3 separate regions of the Homo sapiens genome follow, and all the other regions are linked to region 3. Evidence: fine-mapped expression QTL. A gene starts in region 3. Each other region holds a variant in brackets. All regions are shown on one strand. Distances are between the middles of the regions.

Region 1 (6,176 bases), 260 kb before region 3:
TTTGCAATTGTTCAGAAATTGCAGCACCGAGAGAGTCTTCTGACTGCAGCACCATCTCAGAAGCTTTTTTTGCCCAGGCCAGCCTATGCCCACAGCTGCATTTCTCACTTCTTCTCAACCAGCTCCTCTCACCCACCTCCTCTGAGCTAGTCGCTCATGACCCCTGGGGGCCAGCTAGTGTACCAACAAGAAGCCTAGAAAAGCTTAGGGAAAAGTCTGTGGTTAATGCTTTCCTTATCCTTAGCCCTTCAACTAAATACTCCTGTGTGATGTCAGGCTTTGCTTTTACTAGATTTGTATTTATTGACAATTTGCTAGAGTTTACTTAACTGTAACCTGAAATAATGTCCCTTTCCTCCTAGGATTTTCTTTGGGAACTTAAACAAAATAACATATTCATCATAAACAATAGATGAATAAAAAGGAGATGCTTTTTTCTCTATTTTAGAGTACTCTGTAAAGTTCATGGAACCATCTGAATCAGCATCACCTGGCAGGCTTATAGCAGATTTTAGGCCAGGCGTGGTGGGTCACACCTGTAATACCAGCACTTTGGGAGGCCAAGGTGGGTGGATCATTTGCAGTCAGGGGTTCGAGACCAGCCTGGCCAACATGGCAAAATCTCACCTCTACTAAAAATGCAAAAATTAGCCAGGCGTGGTGGCAGATGCCTATAGACCCAGCCATATGGGAGGCTGAGACAGGGGAATCACTTGAACCCAGGAGGTGGAGGTTTTAGAGAGGCGAAATCATGCCACTGCACTCCAACCTGGGTGACAGAACGAGACTCTGTCTCAAAAAAAAAAAAAAAATCAGATTCCAGAAGCTCCTTCCACTCACATACAGAGCCCAGATTTGTACAGTGCAAGATAGAATCTTATTTCCCCTTGGCCTAAGGAGCCATTTCTACCTGTGTACTGCAAACACTGAAAAACCTGGACACTTTTGGTCTGAGATGTGCATTTCTCAACTTCAGCTTCAAATTGGATTCACCGGGGGAGCTTTGTAATGACACTGATGCTCAGGGCTTCAATCAGACTAATTAAATTAGAACTTCTGTGCATGGGGCCCAAGCACCAGTACTTTAAGAAGTGCCAGGTGGTTCTGTAATATAGCCAGAAATGAGAACCACTGGTTTCTATTTTACTTACTAAGTGTATTAGTCCATTTTCATACTGCTATGAAGAAATACCCAAGACTGGGTAATTTATAAAGAAAATGAGGCTTAATGGACTCACAGTTCCACATAGCTGGGAGGCCTCACATTCATGGCAGAAGGTGAAGGAGTAATAAAGGCACATCTGACATGGCAGCAGGCAAGAGAGCATGTGCAGGGGAACTGACCTTTATAAAACCATCAGATCTCATGAGACTTACTCACTATCATAAGAACAGCACAGGAAAAACCCACCCCCATTATTCAATTACCTCCCACCACCCTCCCACAACATGTGGGAATTATGGGAGTTAAATTCAAGATGAGATTTGGGTGGGGATACAGCCAAACCATATCACTAAGCTACTTGAGAATTCTATCACTGCTTTAAAATCCATTAATATGTAGCTACTCCCCTTCTCTTTCACTGGCAGTCAGTCAGCCTTCTTCCATCTTGGATACCTATCTCCTTTTTAGTATTAGAACCTTTACAACATAGAACAAGCTAATTGCTCCACCCAATATTTACCTATAAATAGCACTGCCCTATTGACATTCTCCTGCTTAGAAATTCTGAGTGCATTGAGGCCACTATGAGACAGGGTTGGATCTGGGAGATAGTCTTGACCCCCCAGCTTCAGGAGAGCAGGTAGAGTCTCCTCCTCCACACGCTGACCAGGTAGACATTGTGGCACTGAAAGGGAGTCTGGCAGGTAAAAAGGAGCTCATAACCTTCGGGAGGACACCTGTGTTGAGGAATTGCTTATATCTAAAAACAGCTTCTGTAGCAACATACCAAACTCTGGCTTTGTATAGTCTGTCTTAATTAAACTTCAGTTGCAGCCTAATGGGATAAAATGGGATAAAAAAGGTAAACTAACAGAAGATAATTGCTAGGGGGAAAAGGAAGCTAAACTTTAGACAGCAGATCTTATTGGTACATGGAAAACCAAAACAGGCAAGTAGCCAGAGAAAACTTGAAATATGGAAACTCTAATGTGTGGTTCTCCGGTTCAAATCTTTCTCTCTACTAAATGGCAAATGTCATGGGCAGAAGGTGGAAGTAGGACTTTTCATTTCTATATAATCAAGCTTATAATTTCCTTTCTTGGGAGTAGGTTTTGATAAGGATGGGAGAAAGCACAGACCTCCATGAACTTGGGGAGGAGGTATAAAAGGAGAAGGATATGGAAGGTGTCAAAGCCATTACCAAGTGATAGTTTTGGGAAGAGAGTTTTCTGTTTTGCAGTTCACCCTAGAACAGGCATATTATAGCTCCCTTTGCCCCAGATCAAATCAAGAAAACTAGCTCTCAATGTCAATGAGAGAGAGTAATCAAGAATCTGAGAAGGATTCTCCATGCATCTTGAGACTCTTCCTTAGGCTGACCTGATTTTTAATCTTTCCTCCTGGGGCCTCTCCTATCTCTTCCTCCCCTGTACTGTGTCCTGCCCAAATAGAGACTATGCTTCTTTTAACATCCACATGCCTCTGTTACATCTTCCCTGCTTGTGATGCCGAACTGTGTTGCAACTACAGTCTATTTTCCTTTTCCGACACACATGGTCCAAACTTTATAGCCAATAATGAGCTTCAAAAACTTTGTAACTCAAAGAAACCATAAAACACCGCTCCACAAATTTCTCAGGCAAGATCCATGGTTGGCGAACTGATATATTCACTTTGCCCAACAGGGATTTAACTTCTGATCCTCTCTTTTCCTGACTGTGGAAAGAGCAAGACTACATGGCAGGAATGAGCCTCCAGAGAGGGCCCGGACAAACACCAGATGAATTAAAATATCACCTTGATTACAGTGTACATATGTCCTATTTCTTTTTTATTATGTCTTTCTCTGTTCTAATAATATGTCCCATTTATTTTAGGGAAGCCCAGTCCAGATAGTTTAAGAGGAAGGCATTAAATGGACATGTGGATCTTTATTTTTGGGGAAGAAACCTAAGAGGAAAATCTGTACCCATATAAACAGCCAAAAAAACCATAACAGCCATCTATTTCCTCATTTCATTTTATGTCTTTCTCTGTTCTAATAATATGTCCTGTTTATTTTAGGGAAGACCGTCCAGATAGTTTGAGAGGAAGGCATTAAATGGACATGTGGATCTTTATTTTGGGGGAAGAAACTGACGAGGAAACTCTGTACCCTCATAAACTGCCAAAAAACCATTAACAGCCATCTATTTCCTCATTTTCTTAGGTCCTAAGGGAAAACCCCAGTGGAAACCAACACTAAATAAGAGAATGGATAAAACTGTTT[T/C]GGGGAAATTTGAGTATGGGGAGAGGAATGGAGATTGCCCTGGGGAGGGCATAAATAGTGCCTCTCTGAATTTAATATGTGATGTCCAGAGGGACCTAAATGAAACACAGATTCTAAAATAAATTGTTTGAAAGGCACTTCAGAAACATGGAGGTTATGAGAAAGAAAATTTTGATTAAGACTCACCAGCCTGGATTCAGTAAAGAAACACTGTTCTTAATACCTGCTGTAGCCTTTTAAGTTGTCTTTTTATTCGCATGACAATGAGTCAGGGCAATACACTCATATTTTTCAAAAACCTTTCGACATAGTTTAACTTCTGGAGATAATAGCCAAAGCAAATGTCACAGAATAAAGGATAAAAAAGCTTTATGTAGAAAAGTCCTAGGTACGGGAGATTAAAGAGAGCCCCAGGTAACTCCAGGGCTCATGGAATGTGGATGGCTGATCCTGTTTCTAATGAGGCCAGGAGGAAGATCACATTCAAGCCCTTAAAGAAAAAATTGCTATCTCTGGGAAGATACCTCTAATTCCACCCAAACTTCCCTAAAATGTGTTGCTTTGGTCATAGAGCATAGAGAAGGATGAAAGAAGGCGTACAGAGAGTTTAAGACCATGTCTGCTCCTAAAGCAGTGACTAACCAGACCTATTGTCAGATATACACTCCAGATGTGTTACCCTAGCCAGCCATTTCCAATTGCTTCCTTCCTGCAAATCTCTACGAAAGTCTCATTCAAAGGTTATCTTTTATAAAAACAGGTGATAAATAAAGGCAGCTAGAGCTTGGGGAGCACTCTATCTTGAAGAGCTCATCTATCAAGTTCCCTCTAATTCCCCTCCTTCCTTGCTTCTTCCTCTGCAGAAGACTCTCCTTCTACCACCTGACATGACACCTCTGGAGGTAAATGCCCAGTCCTTGATGAGACTCAAGGCCCTGTCCCCCTAACTTCCCATCCATAGGCATGGACCTTTATGAGTTGTTCACTACTTAAGCCAGATCTACAACCTTTGTGATTGGTCTGGAGTTAGACCCCTGACCCAAGCTGGACAAGTCATATATCCTCCCAAAATAATTGAGAAGTGCAAATTAAAGAGAGCTAGGTAGTCTCTGCTGTGGCTTAGGTATTACATTAAAAACAAAAATGAAGTCATCGAGAGACAATCATACCTCTCCATGTAAAGTAAGAGGTAGAGAAAGCTGAAGGGCAGAGAAAGAAGAATGAAAAATGTATGTGCAGAGAAACAGAGATGGAGAGAGTACAAATTGAATTGCTAATTCCTATTTTCTGTCCATTGTTGTCCATAAAACGCCCCTATATCTTTATATCTAAGTCATCTCTTTGTTCAGGTTGGCTAGAATCGTTTCCTCCTTGAAATCACTCCCCTCGACTAAATGCAGTCCCCTGTTCTCTCCTTTCTAATCTCTTCCCTCACTATGGATGCTTTTATCTCCCATATCTTTCTAGTTCCCTGATTCCCCACCTCCTATTCCCTAAAAATGCTGGCTTGGCAGTGTACTGCCATTAGATCTGGAAAGCCCTGGTATTTTATTATTATGAAGAGACTAAGCTGAGGGTAGAAGAATCTATTCATCTCCAAGTTGCCAGTGAACTCTGAGGCATCTTAGTTATTAGTGAGTTGAGCTGAAGAATAAAAACAATTTTCAAGTGCCCTTAGGCAAAAATATGTCTTACCTACCAATTCCGCAATCCCTGAGAGGATCTGGAAGCCATAGGGATTGTACGTTTCTAAAAGGCAACATACAGAGACTAAATTATACTTTCTATACATCCTTTTCATGTGTTCTGGGAAGTGCTGGGGTTTTTTTTGTGTTTTGCGGGAGGCGGGGGTTGGCCAGATTCTCAAGGCCCTCCCTCTCTGAAAGTTTTCTATATTATGACATGGTTTCCAGGATGCCTCTAGTTTCCCAGGGAAAAGAGCTGATCACCATGAGTTCCTAGAAAACTATGAAATGTCATGGATTTTCAAGCTATGTGCCATAAATTAATCCCTCCAGAGATATAAATCCGGATCTTTAGTTATTAGTAGATAGCCCAGAAGAATACCTTCTTGGAATCTGAATATTTCCAAATCCTAATTTCCAGAGACTCTCCAGCCTTCTGTATTGTTTCATATATTCATTCTTTCATGTATTAAAAAAAATATGAACATCTACTATATCCCAGTCACTACCATATGTTACATTGATGCAACGAGCAGAATTGTCCAACGGCGACCTGGGGAACCAACTGAAACAAGGTATTTTGCTTCCCCAGCAGATGGTGTTGTATCTGAACTTATCTCTTTTGGAACGAGGGGCTTCCTTTCCCACAGAGGATGCTCTAACTTCCCAGGGGCCTCAAGTGCCTCAGGAACTGATCACCTGGCTTTTCCACATAACTCCTTTAAACAGCTGACACTCAAATCCAGACTGCCTGCTAGCTAAATAATCTTATTATCTCCACATTGAGGAAGCTGCTCTCTAAAAAGAGAAAGCAATAATGGGAAGGGCTCCTCTCCTGGAACAGAGAAAAGTATCATGGAGTTGGTAGAGCTTAATTTGGATGAGATTTTCAAGGAATGATTGGTTAATGAGGGAAAGACAAACTGTTGCCTGATGGATGTAAAGGGCCTCCCAGGCATGTGGAGAACTGAGAGAAGGACAGTTTAGACACAGGGCATAGCCCAGGTGATATCCCTAGAAAATAAGGGGCGTATGGACTAAAGGAGCTCGAGGGAGG
Region 2 (6,176 bases), 280 kb before region 3:
CCATCCACCCTATCTTTGCCAAAATCGGTATTACTTTCTTTTTCTACTTCTTATTGCTTTCATTCTGAAATGTTTGTTTTATTGCCATGTTTTTCCTGAGTTTTTCCAACTTGCTGTTAGATTCTCCTCTTATCACACAATCCTCTTCCTAAGCATTTTTTATTTTTAGAAATATCAAATTGTCTGTAATTTTTTAAGAACATGAAATTCTATTGAACTGAACCCTTCATTCTTTGGGCAACTCATTTAATAATGTATATTTATTTCCTTTTGTTTAAGATTTTTACTCATCTCTGAATGATTCATCTGCCAGATTCCAGATAAGGAACTGTGTGGAGTAAATTGTTAAAACTTTATGTTGCTTCAGCATCCATTTTGAATCTAGGTTTAACTTTCTCATACCAGAAGCAAGGCTTAGTTACCTTTGACACATATCCAGTTCTCTGCCTCTTCCCAGTTCCTCAATGTGGTCAATCCAAATGTCTGCCTCCTGGTGGCTACCTCCCTACGGGACATAGAGATACAACCTAGCTGACTCACTCCACTGACCCCACACCTACATAGACTGTACATACATGCCACAGTAACCACTCTCAGTCACAACATGACCCTTTGAGATTCATGCTAGCTTGCTCTAAACATGCCAGTTAGAATTTCCTGTGGGAAGCCTGCTTGGGTAATGCCCTGCACCCTAATAAAGTCCTTGGCTCATAGATCTTCCTCCACACTCCACCTACAGGTTGGGCACTCTGTTGGCTCCAGACTTCCTGTCAACCCTCATTGACACCCCTCTTCTCTTTGGGATCTGTACATAATAAACTGCTTCTGACATTTCATGTGTTTGTGCTGTGTTGCCTCCTCTGTCTTACCTAATTGACACACCCACATCTAACTTTCCTTCTAGTCAAAGCTCTCCTGGAGAGTGGCTATCTTGGTGTTATAAACTGGACACAGGTCAGACAAGAGCCATAGGGGTATCTGCCAGCATAGACAAATTTACTGTGAGAGGGACACCAAGTCATATGTTGTACACTTAGGCATTAAGCCATCTGCCAGAATTAAAAAAAAAAAAAGCATCTGTATCCCATGAAAGGCATATTGTAAACATCCTGGATCAAATCCCATGGATCTGCATCAGGGCAAGGCTGGAGTTTATAGCCAATCTCCAGAGAGAGAGCGCTCAGGACAAATTAGAGAGGAATACAAGACTATTCTGTGGAGAAAATGGAGAGAGGAGTGTGAACTGGCAATCTCTAGCCTCTCTTTTGTCTGATCTCTCCTTTATTCTCTGACTAAATCTTTTAGTGTCCGAGGGAAAAGCATAGTAGAGTTGAGGGTAGGGAGAAAAGGGAGTACAGAAGACAGTAGTTCAAAACCTATGCTCTGAAGTCACCCACAGGATTCAAATTCCAATGCTGCTCCCTGCTAGCTCTTTGGTCTTGAAATAGTACTTTAAATTATCTGTATCTCTGTTTTTTTATCTGCATAGTCCCTTTATAGCTTGTTATAAAAATTAAATGAGTCACTATTAAATCTAGAACAGTTTCTGCCACATATAATAGTTCAACAAGGGTTAACATTATGATTAGTTGTTTCTGCCCCATGAGCTTTCTGTTACAATATGCAACTGCTTTGTCTTTTTCCTTGAATCACTCTACCTTATTCTAAGCATCCGCCTCAATTAGGAGGATTGGTTAGAGACCATAGAAATGACATAAGCTGTATTCTTCAGTTGCAGTTTTTGACTTTCTGTGTTTTTTAACTAAGTCGTTACAGGGACATGCCTGCATTTCTCATGACTGCCTCATTCCTCTAGCTTGCAGTCAGTCAGTGGCTTCTCATTTAAGGACTACAGTGCTTACTTTCAGAGAAACCCATACCTGGCAGAATGCAAATACCACTTGACTATCAACAAGCTTTCTCCTCTGTAGAGATATCTTTGGCCAGAATACTTCATAGTTTGAAGCTGTAGTAGACATTATTTCTTAGGTCATTGTAGATGGTGGATTACTCCCTTTCTTTTTTTCCTTGCTGTTTCTGACAGGTTTCATTTTTTTTTAAAGGAGAGTAATAAATATGCCTTAATTTAAGATTTCTAATCAAAAATCTGGAATAGATTCAATACCTTAAGAATGGTCTGAAAGAATTCACCTGTAAAATGGTCCAGGCTGAAATCAAATCAATGGTGAATTCATGATAAAATATAAAATTCAGTATGGCCATTATATTATATACACTTTCTACTTCTTTTTAAGATATTTTTTATTTGTTAATATTTTCAAAATATTCCACTTGGATTCTCCATATTATTAGTATTTTGTTTTTAAATTGATTTAATGTTTCTGGTTATATCCTCATTCTCATTTCAAATATTACATATGTATGACTTCTCTTCCTCATTTGCATTGCCAGGATTTCAGCTATTTACTAGACTTTTCAAAAAGCTCATTTATGGCTTCATTTATACTTCTGCTTTTATCATTGTTTATTTCTATTTCTATTTTCCTTAGCCTAATTTTTAATTTTTCTAGATTCTTGAATAGTATACTTGCTTTATTTTTTATTCGTTCTTGTTAATAATAAAACCATTTGCAGCTAA[T/C]CATTTTGCTCTGAGTATAAGGTGGTGATACTGGGTTATTCTTATTTGCATAAACATTATTTTAATGACACCAAAATATTCTATGGTTAAAAAAGACTATAAGCATGCTTAACCATTCTCATTATAGTTTAGTTTATAGGTTAATTTCATCTTTGCTAATAGGTTATAGGTTAGTTCCATCTTTGCTAATTATAAATAACTCTGTATATAGTTTAATTAAAAAATACTTGGGGGGAGGGGGGAGGGAAAGCATTAGGAGATATACCTAATGTAAATGACGAGTTAATGGGTGCAGCACACCAACATGGCACATGTATACATATGTAACAAACCTGCACATTGTGCACATGTACCCTAGAACTTAAAGTATAATAAAAAAGAATACTTTTTCTTGATATAATATGTATGTATTCATTTCAAATTTTTATGAAAATTTCACAAAACTAAGGATTAATTTTCTACTAAAGAATCTAGAATATATCTCTTAATCAGTGTTCTTCATTCTTTTATGGAGTCATATTATACCATTTTTTTTTCATAGCACTGTACTATGTTTTCATTAATTGCCAAAGAAAATATTACCATCTGCTTAGCATCAATGACTTATGACACTAATTGTACTAGATGACATAGTTAAGCAGGAGCTACTGTTAATACTTTTTTTGTTCATTGCCCTAGATGGTCTAGGATTTCATTTTATTGGAGAAAATCTCCTGTCATCTTTGCAAATTATGTTAATTTTATTGATAGGTTAGTAAAAGGTATTCTGGACACCATGTATCGTTTTGTAGGCAAAGAATTTGACTGTCCTTCATAAAACCTTTGTGAAAAACACAGTGAAATTATTATGACAAAAATTGGACAAAAACAAGAATCCACTGGCAACATCCAACATTGGAGGGTATAATTTTAAAAGTTGAGAACTTCCAGGAACAGTGCTGGAAACTATGTATGCTGGTCAGTACCTAAGCCTATGACTAATCATAGAACTTTGTGTGGAAATAACCAAAAACATAGGTACTAAAACTGCTTCTTCCTCCTCTCAGCAGTAGCTTGAGGTTCATTTTGAATCTACACAAATTGTTCTATAATAATGGCTAATATCAAAAATATGATCAAACTTAAGTCAGGCAATACGCTAAACTTTGTACATGCAAAATCTCATTTAATCCTCAAGATGACACTACAATTTTGGTTTCATCAATGTGATAGACTAAACAAATGAATAAACTACTCCTGCTGCAAATGCTTACAAATTCTGAATAAAGTAAAAAAGAATCTTTTAAAATACATTACTAAGGCAGCTAAAAAAGAGTAAAATCCCCAGACATCAGGAACTAAAAGAGTGGTAAGCACACAAGTTGATGCTTCAGTGGCCAGGATGGCATGAGTGGTGTGCAGGAGAGTATAGAACTCAGGAGATCTCTAATTGCTAGGGTGTTGGACATTAATATCTATGCAGAGAAATTAAACCTATGTGAGGTCAGGAGTGGGGATGTAAATCCCAGTATAAAGACAGGACCCTTAAAGTGCTACGCCCACAGAAAATGAGGAGCTCGATAAAATGTGTCTACATGTCTTAGGATGCCAGCAATAACATTTTCTTTATTTTGGGTTCTGGGTGAGTAAAAAAAAAAAAATTACCATGAGAAATCAAAACCTCAAGCTTAAGTAATCTGAGATGTAGAGTCCAATTTACAGTGTTCATGAGTGATGAGAATCCAAGCCTACTTCACTGAAGTATGTAGCAGAGGAAAATGAAAAACTGCTCTGAACCAATGTCATATGAAATTCCTACAAGAGAAAAAAAACGACATACAAGAATTTCTTAATCAAAAATTACAAAATGTGCTAGAAAATAGTTATCAGACAGAATAAATCAGATTAGTAGAGAACCTAGAAGGACAAATAATAATCTGAACAAGCTTATAAAATAATTTAAATGGCTAAAGAGATAAAAGAAAAAATGAAAATCAAAGAATAAGAAACAACAAAAAATAGAAAGTCTAAGAAACAAAAGAACTTATAGAAATGAAATAAATATTTATTGAGATTTCAAATCCAGTAGACTGGAAAAAACAACAAATTCTACATAGTCAGTGGGAGAATCAAGTAACAAGATAGAGCTGAGGAAATAACCCAAGATGTAGCACTGAGTCATAAAGTGATAGAAATGTAAAATAGGTTAAAAGATTCGCAGAACAAAAGGAGAAGGTCCAACATGTGTCTATTAAGAGTATGAGGAAAGGAAGAGGTGGGAGAGCAATATTCAAAAAGGTAAGGTCTGTGAAATTTTTCAAGTTAATAAAATACATGTAACATAAGATTGCATAAGCTCAAGTCCTGAGCAAAATAAAAAAAAAACTACATGTATATTTATCATAGAAAAATAGCAGAATATCAAAGACATTGGAAATAAAAACATAAAAGGAGAAGAAAGAGAAAAAGATAGATTACCCTGCAAAGGAGTAATTAAAGTTATACCAAAGTTTTCAATAGCAAGATGGAGACCAGAAAAGAGATGAAGAAACTGAGGCACAGAAAAGTCACACATGGTCCTTAAAGACAGGTAGCCAGTATGTTGCAGAGTCAGATTTTAAGTAAGGTGATCTGACTCCAAAGCCCACATTCTTCAACAACACAGAAAGCTTTTCTGCATAACATTCTGGACAGTTGTCTTTGACTCACCTTTACTTAAAAAAAATAAAAGAAAATGAAAAAACATTTTTTTCTCAATAAGTCAAAATCCGAAATGGTTAGAAAAACCATGTATGTGCCTTTTTGCAAATCTGAAATTAATCTAACTAATATCAATAATGTTTACAAAAATTTAAAAGTTGGATTTGGAGGGCAGCTCATCAGCAGTATTAGATTGCAGATTTCCACACTGGATGGAAATTAAACTATATTTAGACTTGTCTAGAGGCAAAACAGTTGACAATGTCATCCAAGTGGAAGCATGTGGGTGAGTTTCAATGCATAAAAATATTTCCAATTTTTAATCAGCTATACCATATGTAGTAATTGGAGAAATCTTAGAAATATGGCCTCAATTTCCCACATCATCTCTAAAGCATATAACCTTGGGTATACATGAACTAGGCAACAGATCTTTAATTTAATAAATGTTAAACATATATTTTAAATCTCACTAATAGAAGTATTTTTAAAATTGGATAGATTTTTTTTCACAGATTGTTAACTAGGTCTGTAAATAATTCCCAATGGGAGGGACCAATGAGGATATGAGTTGAAATAAATATTTGACCTACCACAGTGAATTCTTTGAAGGACAATACATGTTCATATACATAAATTCCTTGAGCAACACAAGTCCTGAGCAAAATAAATTATAAATCATATCATAGCTCAAAAAGGGTAAAAGGCATCAATCTTTAAAGTATTTCTACATGTAACTGTATCAACTAGTGTTCCATGGTACAAAAGACAAAAGTACTATCAGTTTATCACAGGAGTCCCAGAAAATTGCTGTTCTGAAATTAATATTTTATTTCTTTAATTAACAATATTAAATTTGTGACAAGAGAATGGTCAAAGGACTGCAATGAATTCTATA
Region 3 (6,176 bases):
AGATTTCTGTGCTTATAATTCATGTATACACTTACTATGTGTATTGAGTGCACTCTCCTAATTCCAGTTGCCACAGTCAGACTGTAAATACATATGTTTTGTCATTCTTAACTACTGTAATTCAGAACTTCAGCTGCCAAATTTGGTGCTAATATTCTCACATATGCAGTTCATGCTCTGCTCTTAAGTAATTCCTTGTTTGCTGTCAGCAGCTTCTACCATGATATATAAAATGGTAGAATCAATTTAAAGAAAAATAACCTAAATTGTTAGCTAAATGGAGCTACAATGTGTTTTTCTTCTTGAAAATATTCCCTTTTCTATTATTTCCTTTATTTAGTAATTATAAACCCTGGTCAAGCAAAAAATACATACAGCAGAACATTTTAAGTACCAGCAAACCACAAACAGCAGTGTTTTCAAGAAGAAAAAAAGGAAAATCTCAGTTTCATGCTAGACCATCCTTTGAGGCACTGTCATTTTAAGTGTGGAGGCATCAATTATTTCCCCTAGGCTGAAAGATCTACACATATAAAGGTTCTATAGATCCACTAAGAAAATAAGCAACCATTTCTCTGTATCATTAAACACAACAGGATACTAGTCTTGAAACACCGGCAAAATTCTGAGTGTGAATATTAAGGTCTCATATTTCAGTTTCAAGTGAAATAGAGTTGTTTTAGGCCAAAGAGGATTGAGACCATACTTCAAGTTGTCAACTGCATAATATTTCAAGGGTCAAAGACTAGCTCCATTTCAAAAGCCTGTAACCTTACAGCCTGAAGAAACCCTGTGGGTCTCCTAGTTCAATATGACACCCAAGGCAGGAATTTTTCCCCTAGCATCCCTGACAGATGGTCAGCCTCTGTTTCAATTACTCCAGTGGGGGAGTTCTCAAGAGAAGGTTCCCAAGGGCTATGATGAAAGGCTAGAACCAGCCATTCAGACCTGGAGGAAGGCTCCAGTCAGCAAGCTCGCAAGATACAGACAGCATTACCAAACATTGAAACCAGACTTCCACAAGCAAGAATGCGATTCCGAACTGACCATCATAAAGATGCAATGTGTAAGACATACAAACCCCAATTCTAGAACCATCCAAGGTCCTTTTACTGGCCTAGGGAGTAGCTCCCACAATGGGGTAAGCAAGGTGGCTTTTCTCCGACTTATTATTATTATTTTTTAATGACTCTTTAAGGCTCACAGCAAGGCTTGATCAAGTCAGGGAGCACCAAATCCCTTCCTTCCAAAAACCAAGGCAAGGGACCCGCTGGTGGAAATGCTAAGGCTTAAAATACTCTTAACTTTGGTCTTAAATTCGTCACTACAGTAAACCAGAACATTTCCGGTTTTTCTTTTAAAGATGTACATAGGCTATGCCGTAACCGAAGTTTGGTTGGTGTAGGGTGGATTGGGGGGAGCGGTGTTTTAAGCGCAGCCCTTCATCCCGCCTTGAAGTCTAGCTTGATCCTCCCAGGAAAGGCGAGCGCGCGGGGCTGAGCTGCCAGCCGGTCCCCAGCCGGAGCCTGGGACGGGGCGGTCCGGCCCTTACCTGTCAATGCTGATCACGCACAGGGTCATGATCGAGGCCGTGCAGCACATGACGTCCATGGCGATGAAGACATTACAGAAAAAGTGTCCAAAGATCCACTTGCCCCCGATGAGGTCGGTGACGCTGACGAAGGGCATGACCGCCACAGCCACCGAGAGGTCGGCCAGCGCCAGGGACACGATCAGGTAGTTGGAGGGCTGGCGGAGCTTCTTGACGAAGCACACGGAGATCACCACCAGGCAGTTGCCCGCGATCGTCAGCAGCGTGATGAGCGTCAGGATGGAGCCGATCACAACTTTCTCGACTCTGCCGTAGTTGATCTGTTCCCCACAGCCGGAGGCATTGTCCGGGGGCGCGTCCCAGGTGGGCGCCGGGCTGGCTGTCACCTCGCTCAGCAGGTGCGGCGCCCAGGAGCCCGCGACCGGGTCGGCGCCACCGTCGGGGCTCAAGTCGGGCAGCCCGCGCCCCACTTCTGGCAGAAGGAAAGAGCGGAGGTGCCCGTAGAGGTCCGGGCGGCCGCTGCTGTTAACGTCCATCATCGCGCCGCCGTGTGCCGCTGCCCATGGAGCCGGCGCCCCGGCCACGCGCCTCCGGCTGCCGGCCCCGGGGCTTCACCTCACCGGTTCCGCTCCGCCCGGCCCAGCCATGGGGCCCGCGCCGACCGCTGGGGGGCGCCTGGCTCTGTCTCGGAGCCCCGCACTCCCCGGACCCCCGGCCGCTGCGGGTAACGCGGCAGCGCGGCCTCACGGGGACTCCCTGCGGGAGGCGCTTCGGCCCCCGACGGACGCCTGGGACGCGCGGAGTCGAGGGAGCTCGGGCTGGGCTCCGCTGGCAGCTCCACAGTTCGCAGCAGCAGCTCGGCTGCGCCGAGAGCGCCCGGGCGGCAGCGGCAGAAGTTGCGGAGTGCGCCCCGCCCCTCGCGCCCGCCGCCGCCGCCGCCGCCGCCGCCGCTCCCCTGCGGCAGCCGCGCCGCGTCCCCGCCGCCGCCGCCTCCGGCCGCTGCCCGCTCCCTCGCGCTCCTGGGACGGGATACCCGGGCTGGGCAGGCACCGCCGCCTCTCCCGCGCCTCCCTACTGTGAGGGGGCGGCGCTGCACGCGCCTCCCGGGATCCCGGGTCCCCTCGCCCGGGAAGCTGTCCTTGCCGCATGATAGATACTTAGAACCCCTCCAGCCGACCCCAGCCTCCGCACACTAGTCAGCCACAGTTCAGTGGGGGCATTTTTCTTTTGTTAAGAGGCCTAATGAGCCAGCGGATGTTTGGGCTCATTGCGAAATGAAGAACCTAGAGGGGGATTTTATTTTTCTTAATTAAACAACAACCAAAAAAACGTCTCTGAGCACTACACTAAGCAACAAATAGGTACTTCCGTTTTCTATTTTGACCGCTTATGGGAAGAAGCGAAGATGGAAAAGAAGCAGCCGAATGGGGTGAGGGTGGGAGCTCCGAGAAGAGGAAGAAAGAAAAAAAGGAGGGAGGGGGATTCCTTAAGCCCCTGGCACCCAGGAGATGAGGATGCTCTGGGGACAAGGCCTCCAAGGGGGTTACACCCATTTGGACTAATCCTTCCTGGATGTCTAGAAACAGTCCTCTCCGCTCTGAAAATAGACCCTGATTGCCTTTATATTTAGACTTCAAAGCCTAATATATTGAAAAGAGAGTTAATTTTCCCGTAGCATTCTGGAAGTCTTACACATAAGCAAAGAAATGACCGGTTATACTCTTCTATAAAGGAATCCTGGAGGTGTATGTTGATTTAATACCTATTGGCTAAAATTCCCCTTGGTATCCAAACCCTGTCAGAGCGGCTGATTTTTATTATTTGTGAGACTTGCTTCATTCCATTTTGTTTGAAGGTTTCATTGGAAGCCAGCAGTGATTTCTGTAGTTTAAGACTCTAAAAATAATCAAATCTGTTTTTTCTTGTTAGGCCCTAGCGGATTATAAATAAGAAGAAAAGGAATAAAAACCTCAAAGTATATTGATCAGAGTGCTGAATAGTACTTTCATTCTTCAAGGTGGGTATTAGCTCTGTTTTTCCAGATAGGGAAGGTTGTTAGCTCTTGCAATCAGCTGGTAAGGAATAGTTATGTTTCAAACCCAAGTTTATCTGATTACTATGCCCATATTCTTCCCTGTACACATTCAGAAAAAGTTTTAATGGAAAAAAAAAAAAGCCCTAATGTTCACAGCTCTTTTGCTGTGATCAACATTTCAGAGGCTCCTCTCTGCCTAGGATAAGCAAACCAATCCATTGAGTCAGAGGAAGAGTTGAATATAATACCTAGGCCACAAAGCAATATTATCTAACAGTTAAGATGGATGAGGAAATTTCTTCAACCTTACTTATGTTAGTTATTCTCTGTTTCGCTTTTCTTGGTTTGTTATCTGTGGTGAACCACGGTCCGAAAATATTAAATGGAAATTTTCAGAAATAAACAATGTGTAAGTTGTCAATTGCACACTATTCTGAGTAGCGTGATGAAATCTCTATCTTACCCAGGATATGAATCATCCCTTGTCCAACATATCCACACTGTATATGCCATCCACCATTAGTCACTTAGTAGCCCTCTCTCTTACCAGATCAAAAAAAAAAACATAGTATATATACGATTGGGTACTATCCGGGGTTTTAGGCATCCACTGGGGATCTTGGGAGAGAGGAAATCTCAGACAAAAGACAAATAGTTTGTTGCTGGAATGCATCTAAGAAACCATTTGTTCACCCTTCAGTGCAGAGGAGGAAATAGAGGCTGGGAGAAATTTTATAACTTATCCAAGATCATATGTGACTGCATTGAAATGTCTCCATTTTTTTATTTTGAGGTTTGGAATTGTCTTAAGGTCTTTTAAAAATTCCTTCATGTAGTATATTCCCCAAGATACTTTTGATATTTTTTTCATTTTAACTTTTCAACTCATTTTAACTTATTTTGACTTTTGTATTCTTCCCCTTGAATACCCTAATCAGTTCAGCTTATATATTCTGTCTTGGCTCTGTCAAATAATATTCCAGAGTAATTACACACAGATTTTGAAAATTAATCATTTTATTTGTATTTAAACCTCTAGTCAATATGATTTACCACCTACACTCTTACAGCCCTCACGTAGCCCATTTATATTTCACAACAGCTTCTAGTTTTTGCTTTTGTCTTGTTTTAGTCCCTTTGGGATGCCATAACAAAAATATCATAGCCTGGGTGGCTTAACAACAAACATTTACCAAGAACAAGGCAACAGTAAATTTAGCCATGTTGCTGTGTCCTCACCTGGCAAAGGGGGTAGGAGAGCTCTCTGGGTCTCTCTTTCTTTTTTTTTTTTTTTTTTTTTTTTTTTGAGACAGGGTCTTGCTCTGTCACCCAGGCTGGAGTGCAGTGGCGCGATCTCGGCTCACTGCAACCTCAACCTCCCAGGTTCAAGCGATTCTTCTGCCTCAGCTTCCCAAGTAGCTGGGATTACAGGCACATGCCACCACACCTGCCTAATTTTTGTATTGTTTTTAGTAGGGACCGGGTTTCACCATGTTGGCCAGGCTGGCCTCAAACTCTTAACCTCAAGTGATCCGCCTGCCTCAGCCTCCCAAAGTGCTGAGATTACAGGCATGAGCCACCAAGCCTGGCCTGGGGTCCCTTTTATGAGGGTACTAATCCCATTCAGGAGGGTTCTGCCCTCATGACTTAATCATCTCCCTCTCCCATCTGACAAAGTCCTAATGTTCAGAATCTATAACTTAAATGAAGGAACAAGCAAGAAACAAATAACCCCATTAAAAAGTGGGCAAAGGACATGAACAGACACTTCTCGACAGAAGACATACAGGTGGCCAGCAAACATGAAAAAATGCTCATCATCCCTAACCATCAGAGAAAATGCAAATCAAAACCACAATGAGATACTCTCTCACACCTAATGCCACCACAATGGGGAGCAGGATTTCAACATACCAATTTTTTGGAGGAAACAAATGTTTATTCCATAACAACTTTTAAATTGTGTGACATATAAATACAGCAAATAATCATTAAAATACTATTTTTTAAATTACTACCTCCTTCATTGTCAATATAGCATCAAGTCCAAGCTCCCTTTTTTATAGAACAGTCACCTCTGTTATATTATCCCTAGTGATGGCTGAGTGTATTTCCTAAGAGTTGCTAGGTTTCTAATTTATAAGCTGTCACAATGCATAAACATAGTTATTGAAAATCTCGGCTTCTGCAGCATTACTTTGCTTATGTTGAGTTTAAATTTCATCTATCATTGTGTTATTCCAAAATCCTGACAGAGCAATCTGGAATTCTTTCAGTTTCCCTTTAACCTTCACTAACAAATAATTGTGTCCTCATAAAAATGCCAAAATCTAGTGTATACTTTTCTGTAATTTTCTCACAAAGAAATGCCAAAGATATAGCTTCACAAAATATTCATAAAATATCTAAATATTCATCTAAATTTGTTGTTTGTTCTGCCCTTAGTTTTCTGGTGTTTAAAAGCCATATCAAGGTGTTGCTTCCTTCTTCCCTCCCGCTGCCCACCCACTCTTCAACAGTTATACCAGAGACAGTAAGTAAAGTGTTGGCATCTAAATCAAATCATGTCTTTATTTTCTGTCCCTTTTA

Direction of the effects. Alleles are on the strand shown, and positions count from the first base shown. SD is a standard deviation of normalised expression in the study named. Not every link is listed here.
In carriers of allele C in region 2, the expression in aorta of the gene that starts at base 2,459 in region 3 tends to be higher than with T alone (large effect, 1.1 SD a copy in GTEx).

Evidence for each region.
Region 1: its variant is fine-mapped to the expression of HTR7 in subcutaneous fat (GTEx, PIP 0.98).
Region 2: its variant is fine-mapped to the expression of HTR7 in aorta (GTEx, PIP 0.99).

Annotation. Positions count from the first base shown.
Region 1 is chr10:90,592,952-90,599,127 of GRCh38, forward strand. No RefSeq gene overlaps it. Among named protein-coding and RNA genes, the nearest start is that of LINC02653, 55 kb to the left of the region's middle. The variant T/C (reference allele first, on the strand shown) is at 3,435.
Region 2 is chr10:90,579,301-90,585,476 of GRCh38, forward strand. No RefSeq gene overlaps it. Among named protein-coding and RNA genes, the nearest start is that of LINC02653, 42 kb to the left of the region's middle. The variant T/C (reference allele first, on the strand shown) is at 2,600.
Region 3 is chr10:90,855,581-90,861,756 of GRCh38, forward strand. HTR7 (5-hydroxytryptamine receptor 7) reads right to left here and starts at 2,459. Exons shown (of 4, transcript NM_019859.4): 1 at 1,553-2,459. The coding sequence starts at 2,091. RefSeq lists silencers at 2,057-2,106, 2,127-2,496.